Linked DNA regions of Homo sapiens: region 2 is linked to region 1. The links come from fine-mapping of genetic effects on gene expression. A gene starts in region 1. The other region holds a variant in brackets. All regions are shown on one strand. Distances are between the middles of the regions.

What was found. PIP is the estimated chance that this variant, and not a neighbour inherited with it, causes the effect. A credible set is the group of variants that fine-mapping cannot tell apart.
Region 2: its variant is the best candidate, but not a certain one, in a credible set for the expression of TCEA1 in blood mononuclear cells (TOPMed, PIP 0.76).

What each region holds. Positions count from the first base shown.
Region 1 is chr8:54,019,877-54,025,255 of GRCh38, forward strand. TCEA1 (transcription elongation factor A1) reads right to left here and starts at 2,572. Exons shown (of 10, transcript NM_006756.4): 1 at 2,187-2,572. The coding sequence starts at 2,249. The region is part of intron 12 of LYPLA1-TCEA1 (LYPLA1-TCEA1 readthrough); the gene reads right to left. LOC133039971 (Uncharacterized LOC133039971) reads left to right here and starts at 2,157. Exons shown (of 3, transcript NR_189620.1): 1 at 2,157-2,506. RefSeq lists silencers at 2,021-2,190, 3,318-3,625 and enhancers at 2,311-3,104, 2,361-2,510, 3,105-3,896.
Region 2 is chr8:53,965,234-53,970,612 of GRCh38, forward strand. It overlaps LYPLA1-TCEA1 (LYPLA1-TCEA1 readthrough), which reads right to left. Exons shown (of 21, transcript NM_001425842.1): 20 at 5,159-5,230; 21 at 1,323-2,879. The coding sequence ends at 2,871. It overlaps TCEA1 (transcription elongation factor A1), which reads right to left. Exons shown (of 10, transcript NM_006756.4): 9 at 5,159-5,230; 10 at 1,323-2,879. The coding sequence ends at 2,871. Among named protein-coding and RNA genes, the nearest start is that of TCEA1, 55 kb to the right of the region's middle. The variant A/C (reference allele first, on the strand shown) is at 2,675.

The sequences.
Region 1 (5,379 bases):
TCTTTTTGGGAGGCAAGTTTTCATACTGGAAAAGTTTTGAACTACCTGAAAACTTAGATTTGAGAAGAAAACTTAGATTTGAGGATTATTTGTGGAGTTTATTCTCATTCTCTTCCAGACTCATTACAAAAGATCTGAAAATTTGTTGACGATTTGAGAACTGCAGATAAATATGAATTTATCTTCTCCACACCTGCCCACTAAAAAATTACTTAGAAACATTATTACAAGGAAAGAAACAAAATCAAGCAAACATCTAATGCATTAGATGATTAAAGGATACATATTACAGCCTAAGTTGGAGAGAACATTACCCAACAAATGGCTTTTTTTCCCTGGGAGCTTCTACTGTGCAAGTCTGGGGATCTCCAGACCAGAGAAAAATCTTCCAGTTTAAACAAAATAACGAAAATGTTCCAATAACCAGATAACCTATCAAATAACCAGAATTTGAAGTGGGAAATGAAGGGCCATATCAATGGGGAGGAAAAATGGCACTGGTAATATCTAGAACAGAAAATAAACAGGAAATACTTTAAAAGGCCAAAATTTGCAAATACAGATTAACAGGGTATGAAATGAAATACGAGGCAATGCACCTGTTAAAGGAAAAAGGGGAACAGAGGATGTTTGAAGTCTTACGTATTTAGTGTTAACACTAATTCCTGATCTAGCTGTCATGTGGAAAGCATGCTGTCCAGAAGAAAACCTGGGTCCTGGCTTATTCCAAACTACACAGTACTTAATTTAAGTAGTAGTACTTAATCTCTCTCAGTGTCTTAATCTGTAAAATGGATACCCTTTATGTACTCACAGCTCTGTGTGAGTCACAAAAGAATTTTGAGCAGATGCTTTTTAACTCCAAAGTGCTGTACAAATCAGAGCATCCCTTTTCTCTTCACATTAGTTTGACATGGAATTTACTTCATAGATGGAAGAAAAATTATTTCAGGTACACTGATGATGAAAATGTGCCGAACGTGGTTAAACAAATTTAGGTGAGGACAATTATATAAGTTTACCTGAGAGGCCAGGCGCAGTGGCCTCACGCCTGTAATCCCAGCACTTTGGGAGGCTGAGGTGGGCGGATCACCTGAGGTCAGGAGTTCGAGACCAGCCTGGTTAAGATGGTGAAACCCCGTTTCTACTAAAAATACAAAAAAATAGCCAGGCGTGGTGGCGCACGTCTGTAATCCCAGCTACTCGGGAGGCTGAGGCAGGAGAATCACTTGAACCCGAGAGGCGGAGGTTGCAGTGAGCCGAGATCAAGCCATTGCACTCCAGCTTGTGCAACAAGAGTTAAACTCCGTCTCGAAAAAATATGTTTAGCTAAGAACAGATGAGTCTGAAGCAAGGGACTGAAAGTGCCACACAAATGGGCAAGCTGTAGAAACTGGTCGTATGAGGATTTCTTACAAACCACAAAAGCATATGCTTACATGAATATTCATCAATAACAAAAAAAATGCCACCAGTATTAACTGTAAACCACTTAGAAAATACCCAACAATATAATTTGTCCAAATCCCTCTACCAGCATTCCGGTGAGTGTGCGTGCTGTAGTCCTAACTCTTCTGTACATTACGACAGGACAAAACCCGCTTTTTATAAAACGTTTAGCAACTCGCCAAGAAACTGGCACACTTTACCTTTTTAATCGCTAAGCAAACATGTAGCACAGTTGAGATAACCAGGCGGACGTTCAGCCCTCTTCAAAAATAAGACACAGAAGTTTTACATTTTACCAGCCCGATGTCTAATACCGATCACAAGCCTCTATTTGATGCTCTTTCTAGATGTTGGCCACGGATCACGGAAGACTCCATTCTTTCAAGTTCTGAGGACTTTCTACGCTTCAATTCCTAAGCTAAATTGCCAAGGTTTTACTAGCACGAAAGTTTAAAGTCAACGGAGAGCGTGCCCTAATCCCTAAATCGATTAGGTTTATTACACGGCACCAGCGAGCAGGGACTGGAAATACAAGAGCGAGCGGGTCCTAACGCAGGTTGCCGCGGGACCCGACGCCCCGGGCCCGGACACCCTCCCCGGGGACGCGGGCGCGGCGGGCCCGGCTCCCAGACGGGAGGCTGCAGGGGGAGGGGAGGGAGAAGGAGGGAGGGGGCGGCCCCCTCGGGCCGGACCGCGGCCCGGCCTCCCTCCCGGCCCGCGCCGCTCGCCGCGCTCACCGCGTTCTTCTTCTGCACCATCTTGTCCATCTTCTTGGCAAAGCGGACCACTTCGTCCTCCATGGCTCCGGCAGGTCTTCTCCGCGCCCACCCCGCTGGCAAGGGGAAGTGGGCGAAGCTGGAGCGGAAGACACAGCAGGAGCGACCCCCGGCGCGCAGCAACCCCCACCACCGCAGGCCCGGGCCTAGGCCCCCTTCCTTACGAACGAAGCCCGCGGCGGCGGCGGCGGCGGCGGCGGCTCCGGCTCCTCCTCCCCAGGCAGCGACAATCGAACACCGCGCGCGACGTGCAGGCGCTACCAACTGACTGCAGATCGCTGGTGAGGGGCGAGCCCATGTTCCCGCCAGGCGGGCGTCGGGCTAGTGGGCAGGCGTGGCTTCCGGCTAGAGGGTCGTGGAAGGCGCCCGGTTTTGCTGCGCGTTCACCTCCGGTCCCGCCCCCTCACGGGGCGGGTTTTCGGCCCCCTATTGCATCGGGACATCCCGGAGTTTTAGAACTCGCGGAGGCCCAAGTATCTCGAAACGGGGGCAGATTCCGAGCATGGAACTTTGGCAGGTTTTAAAGTCTGTGGGAAGCCAAGCACTTTCTCCATAGGAGACTGCTACGGGGAAAAATGGAACCCGTGTCCTCTAAGTTAGGTTACGGAGTTACTCGTTTTAAGAGTTCCTTTTTTTTTGAGACGGAGCCTCGTTCTGTCGCCTGGCTGGAGTACAGTGGCGCGATCTCCACTCACTGCAAGCTCCCCCCCCCGGGTTCAAGCGATTCTCCTGCTTTAGTTTCCCGAGTAGCTGGGACTACAGGCGCCCGCCACCACGCCCTGCTAATTTTTTGTATTTTTAGTAGAGACAGGGTTTCACCATGTTGGCCAGGATGGTTTTGATCTCTTGACCTAGTGATCCGCCCGCCTCGGCCTCCCAAAGTGCTGCGATTACAGACCTGAGCCACTGCACCCGGCTAAGCGTTCCTTTTTTTAAAAAAAATCGGCCGGGCGCGGTGGCTCATGCCTGTAATCCCAGCACTTTGGGAGGCCGAGGCGGGCGGATCAACTGAGGTGAGGAGTTCGAGACCAGCCTGACCAACATGGAGAAACATCGTCACTACTAAAAATACAAAATTAGCCGGGCGTCATGGCCTGTGATCCCAGCCACTCGGGAGGCTGAGGCAGGAGAATCGTTTGAACCCGGGAGGCGGAAGTTGCGGTGAGCCGAGACTGCCATTGCATTCTAGCCTGGGCGACAAGAGCGAAACTCCGTCTCAAAAAAAATAAAAAATAAATAAAGGTGAAATCGTTCGTGAGCTCCTGGAGTACTAAGAACCAGTCTTGGGCATGGCATTTTGAATAGTTGAAGAACAGTTGACGGAAACCTTCTGGTCAGAAATTACACAAGGCATCCCACCAGCTTCTGAGGATCAGAGAGGAAGGTGACTTAAGTTGTGACAGGGTTCATAGTGGAGAATGCAGGCTCCTCCAAAAAGTCTTTCCCCACTTAAACCCTTCACGACCAACTCATGCTATTTGCAGGTATAACTCCCACACCACGTAACTATCATTCATCAAAATACACCGCCTAATAATGTTCTTTCTATACTGAGATGACAGGTTTTTCCTGGTTATGACTCACTCATTTGGGGGAGAAGTATTGGGATCGTTTCCCTATTTTGTTTCATTTTTAAATTATCTTTTTATTATTGATTTCCAGCTTAAATTGTAGTATTTGTTGAGATTTATTTTGTCAATTTTTTTTTTTTTTTGACACGGAGTTTTGCTCTTATTGACCAGGCTGGAGTGCAGTGGTGCCATCTCGGCTGGCTCACTGCAACCTCCACCTCCCAGGTTCAAGCGATTTTCCTGCCTCAGTCTCCTGAGTAGCTGGGACTACAGGCGCCCACCAGCACACCCGGCTAATTTTTTGTGTTTTTAGTAGAGACAAAGTTTCACCATGTTGGCCAGGCCGATCTCGAACTCCTGGCCTCAGGTGATCCGCCCACCTCGGCCTTCCAAAGTGCTGGGATTACAGGCGTGAGCCACTGCGCCCGGCCTATCTCGTCAATTTTTATGCATATCTATGTGTTCTAAAAAAGAACACACAGAAAAAAATTGTTTTCTACAGAAAATGTTGCAATATTTACATCCCTGTTTGCTGTCTGCTTCATGCCTCAATTAATGAGTATGTAAAAATTTCCCTTTATAATGTGGATTTGTACATTTATTGTAATAATTCTGTCATTTTTCTTTTTTCCCAAAGAATCAGTTGATGTTTTTCTTTAAAATACACATAACACAAAATTTATCCATTTAACTACTTTTCTTCTTTTTTCATGCTACCTTGTCTAAGACCATTTTTAACTATTTTTTTAGATTTTAATTCATTTTATTTTATTTTTTATTTTTTTTTAGACGGAGTCTCGGCCTATCACCCAGGCTGGAGTGCAGTGGCGTGATCTCGGCTCACTGCAACCTTTGCCTCCCAGGTTCAGGCAATTCTCCTGCCTCAGCCTCCCAAGTAGCTAGGATTACAGGTGCCCACCACCACGCCCTGGTAATTTTTGTATTTTTAGTAGAGATGGGATTTTACTATGTTAGGCAGGGTGTTCTCAAACTCCTGACTTCAGGTGATCTGCCCACCTCGGCCTCCCAAAGTGCTGGGATTGCAGGTGTGAGCCACCTCACCTGGCCTGTTTTAGCTATTTTAAAGTGTAAAGGCCTGGTGTGTGCATACCCAGTGTGCATGGGATACAGCAAAGGCAACACTCAGATGGAAATGTATAGCTGTAGATACCTATGTTTAAACATAAAGATCTCTGGCTGGGCGCAGTGGCTCACACCTGTAATCCCAACACTTTGGGAGGCCAAGGTGGGCGGATCACCTGAAGTCAGGAGTTCGAGAACAGCCTGGCCAACATAGTGAAACCCCGTCTCTACTAAAAATACAAAAATTAGCTGGTCCTGGTGGTGGCCGCCTGTGATCCCAGCTACTCGGGAGGCTGAGGCAGGAGAATCGCTTAAACCCAGGAGGTAGAGGTTGCAGTGAGCTGAGATGGCGCCACTGCACTCCAGCCTGGGTGACAGAGCAAGGTTCCGTCTCAAACATAAATAAATAAGTAAATATAAAATAAAAAAGTGTACAATTCAGTGGCATTTCTAATGATAACAATATAGTGCCACCATCACCACTCGATAGTTCCCAAAAG
Region 2 (5,379 bases), 55 kb before region 1:
AAGTCTGTAATCCCAGCACTTTGGGAGGCTGACGCAGGCAAACTGCATTAGCCCAGGAGTTCAAGACCAGCCTGGGCAACATGGCCCATCTCTAATAAAAGCACAAAAATAGCTGGGTGTGCTGGCGTGCACCTATAATCCCAGCTACTCGGGAAGCTGAGGTGGGAAGATCACTTGAGCCCAGGAGGTGGAGGTTGCAGTGAGCAGATTGTGCCACTGCACTCCAGTCAGGGTGAATGAGTGAGACCCTGTCTCCAAAAAAAGAAAAAAAAAGAAATAAAGAAAAAAGAAATAAAGTCAATTCAAATCCACAAATTACAATTTGACCCACAAGGACAACGACTATGTAGCTATAATAATTCAAAGCACAGCCTGTTATTTCTTTTGCTGTCTTCTTAATACTTAAAATATTTGCCATTTGTAAGATTACATATAGGTTTAAGTGATTGGGTGAATATAAATATTTCTGAATTTTTGCCACAGCTTAGCAAAATTTATAAACCAATGCTCGTCATCATCCAGGTAAGCTAGAAAACCAAGATTATCATTTTCTGCTTTCCCCAGGATGGTTCTTCATTATCTGCTAGTATATTTGTCTAATTCCTTTGCATGTTCATTTAACAAAGTTACTTTGCCCTCAAAGTAAATATCATAAAATACTACCCTTAATATTTACTTCTGATTACTTTACAAATGTCTAGTATTGGGCCGGGCACGGTGGCTCATGCCTATAATCCCAGCACTTTGGGAGGCCGAGGTGGGTGGATCAGCTGAGGTCAGGAGTTCGAGACCAGCCTGACCAACATGGTGAAATGCCATCTCTACTAAAAAATACAAAAATTAGCTGGGCATGGTGGCGGGCGCCTGTAATCCTAGCTACTTGGGAGGCTGAGGCAGGAAAATCGCTTGAACCTGGGAGGCATAGGTTGCAGTGAGCCGAGATTGCACCATTGCACTCCAGCCTGGGTGACAGAACAAGACTCCATCTCAAAAAAATAAAAAAATAAATAAATAAAGTCTAGTATTTTCCAATAGCAAGACTCACTATTTGGTCTCTCACATTAAATTAAGTGTACACATGGGATGCACTCACGTATTTACTCAGAACCTGCCATTCCATCCATCGCCAGAGGTCCAGGAAAAGATAAGAAAGAAAACATGCTCTGTAATGCTGCTGAATACTAGTTTTTACTGAAGACCAGGCTTCACTTAATTAAAACTGTACTTTAGAAATACCTTAGTAGTTGAGGGGACAGCAGGTGTGTGGTTAAACAAAAGGTAAAGCAAGCTTCATTGTCTAAATAAAATGACAAAATGTGATATATGTTTAACAACAAAAAAAACTTTATTGAATTACAAATTTTAAAATGGATCACTTAAAAGTGAGATTATTTTATTCTGAAACATTATTTCAAAAATGTACTTTGTTTTTGAAATAAAACAAAATCTTCAACTATGAACTGACAAAATAGAGGTGAGTTGGTACCAGTGGGCCAATTCTTAACACGGACATTTAAAAATGCTGCTTTCTGTATTACAACAAAATGATATGCAATAAGAAATTGGAAAAAGGGAGCAAAGGAGAGTGCAAAGCATGTACTGAGGTCTTTCTACGGGTGCCTGACAGAATGCAGATTCAGCATAAAATGTAGACTTTGCAACAGTGGCCTTTAAAGTATGCTAGAGCAAGTGTACCCTAGGGAACCTATGTCAAAACAATTTTTGTCTTACTCCAAACAGAAAAAATGGTACACACTTTAACAAAAGCAAAACTTAATTGTAAGATCTGTACTGTAAAGCTACTTGCTATAGCCCATATATTCAGTTTGTTCAACAATCTCACTCATGACAGAAAAAGTCAGCAAATAAGACTTGGGACAAAATTATTTTCTATCAGTCTCCACATGGAAAGACCACAGCTTTAATGAATTATACAATCCTTAAGATTAATCCTTGGTCAGTATAGATTTCCGAATCAAAATCTAGTCATGAACTGTTTACAATAGCTATACTACACTAAGATGCTAAACATTTTCTTTCCAGTATGTCTTCCTAAGAGGGGAAAAAAATAGTGGGAAGTTTTCATCTTTGCCTATGAGGGGATTTATGAAAAGCCTTCTAAACTACAACAGTGTTCTTCTGCAAAACTAAAACACATTATAAAGTCAAACAGGTAAATTAACAGGAAAACCAAACTGATCTCAATAAAGTCTTGTTTCCAAAAATCTATTAAGAACAAGTAATATACATGTACAAGAAATTACAAGAAATGATGATCACGGTTAGTTACAGATGCAAAATAATATCTAATATTCCAAGCTTGTGAACATAATAATTAAAATCAAATTCATAAGCTACCTCAAAATTATGTACATTTTAGATAAGCTGGTCAAGTATTATTTGAATACACACCATATTTGGTAAACCTAAAATTATATTACCTTTTCTCCTCCTTTAATATTTGTAGCTACATGCCAATATGGAAAAAAATGTATTTTCATTTATGTATTAATAACAGAGAGTAACAGAATTTCTACTGTGTATGTTTCACAGTGTAAAAGAAAAAAAGTTAAGGTATATTTTCCTTTAAGAAAGAAGAAATATTGCCAAGAGTTTAATTAATATCAACTTACTTATAAAAACAGAAAAAATATGTTTTGAAACAGGTACCATA[A/C]AATTATTATATGGTCTCCCTACTGATCTGAAACTACAGAAGGCATTTAAGGAAGGGATGTTAGGTCAAAAACAAAGTCTAACCCAAGTTGCTTTAAAAATTTGATTTGCAGGAAAACTAGTTGCTTGGCCTAGTTTAAAGCTAGTTACAAAATCCGTTTTCTTAATGGTCCAGATATTTTGCCAATTCTTCCAACTCAACAGAACTGTCAAAAAAGAAAAAATATTTTGTAAGACCTTTAAATACCAATAAGGTACATTCCCCATTTAATACAGCATACACCTGATATTGCTTTTAAAAAAGATGCATTTTTGAAAAAGATGCTGTATTTTTCACACATAATAATCACCTATCTTAAGTGCCTGACTTTCCCAACTTAGAACTACTAGGAACATACAACTAAAGAACTTGTATAAAACAATTTCAGCATTTTTATTAAATACCTCTTTATAATGTTTTTAAGGTTAAAAAAAAAAAAATAACAATTCCAAAATTGAACTTCTAAAATATGCCACTCTAGGCATCAGCTTTCTATCCTAAAATTGAACTTTCTTAAATTCAATTAAGTACTATGTCAAAACTTGTGTCACAAAGTGCATGTATTCAAAGCAAACTGCACTGTACACCTCATCACCATAATAAAAATGATCCATCAGCTGGGCACGGTGGCTCACACCTGTAATCTCAGCACTTTGGGAGGCCGAGATGGGCAGATCATGAGGTCAGGAGATCAAGACCATCCTGGCCAACGTGGTGAAACCCCGTCTCTACTAAAATACAAAAAATTAGCCAGGCATGGTGGTCCCAGGTACTCGGAAGGCTGAGACAGGGGAATCTCTTGAACCCGGGGCCACAGAACAAGACTCCATCTCAAACAACAACAACAACAAAAAAGATCCATCATGCAAAACAAATCCAAGAGAACAGGCCAAATTTTCTCAACACGATTGAAAAAGAAGGTGAATGTCCCTCTCCTAGACCAATGACAACTTCTGCAACCTGAGATGGGTAGGAAATACTGTTTCAAACCATGAAGACACTTTCAGTAGCAGTAATCTTTCCAGCTCAGAACTAAATCTTTGTACGTAATAAGGGTACTGGGCCGGCCACGGTGGCTCACGCCTGTAATCCCAGCACTTTCGGAGGCCAAGGCAGGCAGATAACCTGAGGTCAGGAGTTCAAGAGCAGCCTGGCCAACATGGTGAAACGCCATCTCTACTAAAAATACAAAAATTAGCTGGGCATGGTGGCACATTCCTGTAATCCCAGCTACTTGGGAGGCTGAGGCAGGAGAATCGCTTGAACCTGGGAGGCGAAGGTTGCAGTGAGCTGAGATAGCGCCACTGCACTCCAGCCTGGGCAACACAGTGAGGATCTATCTCAAAAAAATTAATGAATAAATAAAACAAAATAGGTACTGGCCCCAACCCCTTAAAGTGGAGTTGAAGAAGCCAAATGGATATCTTCGACATGGTTTGGGACTCTGGCCCAAATGGCTTCTAGTTCATTTCTGATTTTCAGAAAGTGCTTTAAGCTAAGTGAATAATTCAAAATGAGCATTAAACTGAAAAGTCTATGTAAGTATAAATGAAAAAAAAAAGAATCTTGTACAAACTTCAGAAAAACTAATAAAAATAGCCAGCATTTTTAGAACACCAACAATTATCAGGCACACTAAATATATTATCTCTACTCTTCATCACAATCCGAAATGTAGGTACTATTTACATTTAATACATAAGAACAATATAGTTCAGTAATGGGAAGTGGCAAAGGAGTTCAAAATCAGTTTGTATGATTCCAAAGACTAAACTCCTACCACGTAAGCCTCCCAAACTCACACCCTTAACATCCTCATCTATAATAATGATTAAAATGTTTTTAGTACTGATATGTATTTCTGCTCCCAAATTTAAATTTTATGCTTTTGTTTCACAAAATCCCTCAAGAATGAATCATTTAAATAATATAAACTTGCCTGTGTGGGACTAATTTCAAGAGCACACAGGCAATATGAAGGCTTAGTGAAAAGCCTACCAAATGACAGCAGTGCTCATCTGTAATTTCTAAAATAAACACTAAAATCATTGGGTCTGATTTCAACAAGGGAAAAAAAATTTTCCAAAATCAAAATCTATTAAAACAAGTAATACACATGTATAGATTTTCTGGAAGTACAAGAGTCAAAACAACTTAATGAATATAGTATAAATAGGACAGTGATATAATAATTGAACAGTTAAGATTCACTCCCCATTTCCTGCACCAAAACAAATAAAGGTGGTAAAGTCAAGTTAATACTCTTTATTTCTAGTAGGGTAACAAGATGGTATATTCCATTACAAGTAGTCAGGGAGTACAAGAGTACTGTATAGTGTGAGCATATCTGTATATATTTAGATATCTAGGCAGACCTATGAAAAGACCAGAAGAAATCTTTCTATTTTAAGTGAGTATATAATATGAATCCAAGAGAGTCCATACCTTCCATCGATTTCCACATTCATTACAGACAACAAATGTTGTCATTGGTTCATCAGCACTACGGGTTTGTACCTGCAGCAAAATTAAATTAAATGTACTTTTTGCAGTACTATTAAAAAACCCAACCCAAATAATGTTATACATAAAGATATATATTTAATAAATATAATGGTACCACAATAAAATGAATAGAAGTCTGAAACAAGTTCAAATAAGCTAAA